Regions from separate parts of the Homo sapiens genome. Here region 1 is linked to region 2. The links come from fine-mapping of genetic effects on gene expression. A gene starts in region 2. The other region holds a variant in brackets. All regions are shown on one strand. Distances are from middle to middle. Region 1 overlaps TERF2IP (TERF2 interacting protein). Region 2 holds the start of ADAT1 (adenosine deaminase tRNA specific 1).

The links.
Region 1: its variant is fine-mapped to the expression of ADAT1 in whole blood (INTERVAL, PIP 0.95).

What each region holds. Positions count from the first base shown.
Region 1 is chr16:75,650,607-75,653,106 of GRCh38, reverse strand. All of the region lies in intron 1 of TERF2IP (TERF2 interacting protein), which reads right to left. Among named protein-coding and RNA genes, the nearest start is that of TERF2IP, 4.1 kb to the right of the region's middle. The variant A/G (reference allele first, on the strand shown) is at 1,548.
Region 2 is chr16:75,621,802-75,624,831 of GRCh38, reverse strand. ADAT1 (adenosine deaminase tRNA specific 1) reads left to right here and starts at 1,551. Exons shown (of 10, transcript NM_001324445.2): 1 at 1,551-2,429. RefSeq lists enhancers at 1,238-1,757, 1,637-1,876, 1,758-2,277, 2,278-2,797, 2,798-3,030.

The sequences.
Region 1 (2,500 bases), 29 kb before region 2:
TAAAAAGGAATCAAATTCTGACACATGCTACAATATGGATGAACTTTGAAGATATTATGTAAAGTGAAATAAGCCAGACACAAAAGGGCAAATATTACATGATTCTACTTGTATGAGGTATCTAGAAATATTGAATTCATAGAAACAGAAGGCGGAATGGTTGTTTCCAGGGGCTAAGAGGAGGGAGAAATGGGGAATTAGTGTTTAATAGGCATGTTTCTGACCCCTAGAAGCAGAAAATAATAAAAGGCATGGAGTTTCAGTTTTAGAAAATGAGTAAGTTCTAGATACAGATGGTGGTGACAGTTGCCCAACAATGTGAATGCACTTAATAATGCCACTGAACAGAACACTTAAAAAACTATCTGAACTGTAAATTTTACGGTATATACATTTTACCACAATAAAAAATAAAGTTTTTAAAATGCATATAATTTTACACCATAAAAAGTTAATTTTACTGTATGTATTTAATAAAATTCTTAAATAGTAACTAAAAGAGGCTTATCTTTGAGAGATACATGCTAAAATAGATAAAATGATATGATGTCTGGCATTTGCTTCAAAACAGTCCAGGAAGTTGGGATGAAAAGTATAGATTTAAAAAATGCCATGAACTAAAATCAGGTGAAGGTGGGTGATGGGTATATGCAGTATAGTTCATTATACTATTCTGTATTTGTAAATGCTTGGAATTCTCCATAATAAAAAGTAAATTACTGTTCATTCACATAATGAAATACAGTGCAATCAATTAGAAAAGAATGAGGAAAAGCTTTGTGCAGACACACAAACACTTCAAGATAAATAATTAAGTTTAAAAAAAGTAAACCACAGATTAAGTTGATGTCTAGTGTGCTAGTATTACTATGAGCAAAGGGGACATGCAACAGACAAGAGACGGTAATAGAGGCTGCCCCTAGGAAAGGACCCAGGGAAAAGGGTATGTAAATAGGGAGACTGCCTTTTCAGTATGTACCCATTTGTACTCTGAGTATATCTACGGGATAAATTCCTAGAACAAAACTGCCATGTTTAAGGGAATATACGTTATAAATGTCATCAGATATTGTCAAAATGCCCCCCAAAGAAATTGTATCAATTTCTATTAACAACGTAGGAGTATACTTGTTTTCCCATACACTAACTTTGGATATTACCCATTGTATTGACTTTTGCCAATCTTATAGATAAAGTATAACATCTCCTTGCTCTGATTTAGTTAAAAAAAATAAATAACTTGGGGAGCTTTTGTTCTATTTTGTATAATGGAAGCTATCTCAATTCATCAAATAAATACAAAACAATTCCAACACACATATTTATTATCTCACAGGTCTCATGGGTCAAAGTATAGCTTATACTGACCCTAGGCTCAGGGTCTGATTTACTTTCTTTCTTCTTCTTTTTTTCTTTCCGAGATGGAGTCTGGTTCTGTCACCCAGGCTGGAGTGCAGGGGCTTGATCTCAGCTCATTGCAACCTACACCTCCCTGGTTCAAGCAATTTTCATGCCTCAGCTGCCTGAGTAGCTGCGATTACAGGCGC[A/G]TGCCACCATGCCTGGATAGTTTTTGTAGTTTTTAGTAGAGACGGAGTTTCATCATGTTGGCCAGGCTGGTCTCGAACTCCTGACCTCAAGTGGTCTGCCACCTTGGCCTCCCAAAGTGCTAGGATTACAGGCATGAGCCACCGCACTCGGTCTGATTTACTTTCATTTAATAACAGACTATTTCTTCATTTGTTTATCGGCCGCTTATTTATTTCCTTTTCTGGGAACTTCCTGTTCCATTTCCTTTTCTCATTTTTCTATTAGTTTTCTTTTTACTTAATGACTTCTTACTTAATGACAAAGAGCTCTTTAGACATTAAAGAAACTAAGTCTATTGCAGTGTATTGGGAATGTTTTTCCAGCATGCCCTCTGACTTTATTTATCATGAGAAGTTCTTAATTTTCAGGTAATCAAATATATAAAACTTTTTCTTTGTCTTTTTGGCTTCATAACTTATCACCATGCTAATATTTTTACTTTTTTTCTTCTGGCAAATCAGGCAGCATCCTGAACCACAAATGGTTCAGAGCAACTCCCACCATACTGATATATTCATTCATATCTTCTCTTACTCATTTTAGAATTTTTTAATTTTTACATTTAAATATCTGATTATCAAAAGATTACTTAGATGGGTAGGATGAATACAGCTTAATTTTGTCCCAAGTTCCAAATGGCTTGCCAATAGCCCCAACATCACGGATTTAAAAGCAAGTCCCAGACACAGCATGGTGGCTCACACCTGGAATCCTAGCACTTTTGGGAGGCCAAGTCGGGCAGATCCCTTGAGCCCAGGAGTTCGAGACCAGCCTGGGCAACACGGCCAAATCCTGTCTCTACAAAAAAATACAAAAATTAGCTAGGTATGGTGACGAGTGCCTGTAGTCCCAGCTACTTGGAAAGCTGAGGTGGGAGGATCCACTGAGCCTGGGAAGTCAAGGCTGCAGTGAG
Region 2 (3,030 bases):
CCTTGGAGGAGGGCCATGTCCCATTTCCTTTGAACTAGAGAGAAGGATGGGGTTGAGCAAGTTGCATAAATTTTTGAGGGGTAACAAAGAAAAATGAATTCTTTCATTTTTAGTAATAGAGCATTCAGTTACTGGGTGACAAAGGCCCCTGAAGTATCCAGGCAGCTATATTACTTATTCCCGGCAATCCAAAGGTTTTTAGACCTGTTCTGCCCACTACACTGTAGTAGTACTGTACTACAGTAGCCAGTAGCCACATGTGACTATCCAGCATCTGAAATGTGGCTGATCCAAATTGGGATGTATTCTAAGTGTAACACACACCAGATTTCTTAAACTTCGCATTAAAAACAGAACAGAACATAAGTATTTTTTAAAATATTGAGACTCGGCAGCCAGGTGCGGTGGCTCACGCCTGTAATCCAGCACTTTGGGAGGCCGAGGCGGGCAGATCACGAGGTCAGGAGATCGAGACCATCCTGGCTAACATGGTGAAACCCCGTATCTACTAAAAATACAAAAATTAGCCTGACGTGGTGGCAGGCACCTGTAGTCCCAGCTACTCGCGAGGCTGAGGCAGGAGAATGGCGTGAACCTGGGAGGCGGAGCTTGCAGTGAGCAGAGATTGCGCCACTGCACTCCAGCCTGGGTGACAGAGCGAGACTCCGTCTCAAAAAAAAAAAAAAAAAAAAAAAAAATATATATATATATATATATGAGACAGACAGACCGACCCCGGGCATCGTGACTCACGCCTGTAATCCCAGCACTCTGGGAGGTTGAGGCGGGCGGATCACTTGAGGTCAGGAGTTCGAGACCAGCCTGGTAACATGGCGAAACCCCGTCTCTACTAAAAATAACAAAAATGAGCCGGGTGTGATGGCGGGCGCCTGTAATCCCAGCTACTTGGGAGGCTGAGGCAGGAGAATCGCTTGAAGCCAGGAGACGGAGGTTGCAGTGCGCCGAAATTGCGCCGCTTCCAGCCTGGGCGACAAAGCGAGACTCCATCTCAAAAAATTTTTTGATTATATGTTGAAATAATACTATTTGGGATGTATGGGTTAAATAAAATATATATGATTGTTTCTATTTTGACTTTTAATGAGGCTACTGGAAATTTTTAAATTACGTATATGGTTCGAATTATATATCTATTGGACAGTGATGTTACAGATAGAAATACAGCATAGTCAGGAGAATCGCTTGAACCGGGAGGCGAAGGTTGCAGTGAGCCGAGATCGCGCCTCTACACTCCAGCCTGAGCAACAGAGCAAGACTCCGTCTCAAAAAAAAAAAAGAAAAAGAAAAAAATTCAGCCGAGTGCTGCAAGATACGTCATTCTAGTTGAAGGAATATCTAAGCCAACAAGCGGCTCCCATCATCCGGTTTCACGCCTCTCTAAGACGCAGCCAGGGCTGCGGGACTTGAAGCGCGGGAATCTCGGCCCTGGCACCGACTCCCCGGAAAAACTACAGGGCCCGGCATGCACTGCGCGCCTCTGGGAGCGGGAGCCGAAAGGAACCGGCGCTTTGTGACGTCACGTCCGCCTTACCGGCGGATTAAGCTCGCTTTCTTCTAGGCGCGTTTCCTGAAGGTGGGAGGGGAGCGTCCGCGAGGCGCTGGGGCGACGGGGCAGGTTTATCCGGGCTAACTTTGCCGAGTCTGTTTTTGAGGGAAGAGGTTGTGAGGATCGTATCTTCCGGGACGCGTTTCACGTGGGAAGGCGCTCCACGCCTGGAACTGTCAGCAGCCGGCGCCTGAAGAGCTCCTGGCGCGGGGCCTCTGGCCTGGCAGCCGCAGGACCCAATGGATCAGGCGCTCACGCTGTTCTCACTGCATGGCTTCAGTGCCTTGCCTGGCACCTCCTATCCTGTAACTGGCCGACTCGGGGTCCCACCCAGGCTTCTCCAGCGGCCGGGAAGGGGCTCTGCTTCCGGAAGTGTTTAGGAAGGGAGCCAGCGTAAACCAGAGTCCCTTCCTCCAAGCATCGCTGAAGCCTTTTCTCCCCTGGCAGCCGACTTCCTTTTCTTTGGAAAGGACGTCAGTTTTTTTAGCTTGTTGAAACTGTTCAGAGATGCGGTCTTGTGGGCAAATAAATGCCTGTTTAGCTGAGCTGTTATTTTCAGCTAAGAAGTTCTTCAAGTTTTCAAGATCTAGGAGGGGGTGTAGGCTCGAATTATAATGGACCCAGTGTAGCAAAACATTTATTCATTTAAACAATTGTGCATGCTCATTCAGACGCACTACCTGAGTGAGATGATGCCGTTCTGGGCTGCTTCATCTTAAAGAGAGTCACTGTTTCTTCTGGCAACTTCTACCTGCCTTGCCTATCGAGGTTTGTGAATTGCACCTCTGGTTTAATTTCAGGTCGATGGCCAGGTGGTCTTCATAAACTATACTGCCTTGTGATGCCTCCCTAGAAATGAGAGGTGAGTCCCTTCCAAACGAGGATTCTAGGATCTCATGCTTTCTTTTCTTGACAAGGCTTGCCCTGGCCCTCTGACTTTCAAGTCACAGGGTCTCACTTCCTGCAGATTTTTGTTTTAAATCACTGTGGTCTGATTTACCAGTAGCATTCACTACAGTAGCGAGCCTGCACGTTGCGCTGCAGGGGATTCATAACAATACCATCTTTCAAAAGCTGCATGCACTGGAGCTCAGGAAAGCCTTTTTTGTTTTTTTGAGAGGGAGTCTCGCTCTGTCACCCAGCCTGGAGTGCAGTGGCACAATCTCGGCTCATTGCGACCTCCGCCTCCCGGGTTCAAGCGATTCTCCTGCCTCAGCCTCCCGAGTAGCTGGGACTACAGGCACGCGCCATCACGCCCGGCTAATTTTTTTGTATTTTCAGTAGAGACAGGGTTTCACCACGTTGGCCAGGCTGGCCTCGAACTCCTGACCTCAGGTGAGCCACCGCGCCCGGCCTTCAGTTTGGTTTTACAGTGCTTAGCTATGTCTATCACAAGCTCATCTTCTACTGGGAAGCTTTTTGTATAATTGAGTCCAAATGAGATCAGGATGTGCCTAGTGAGC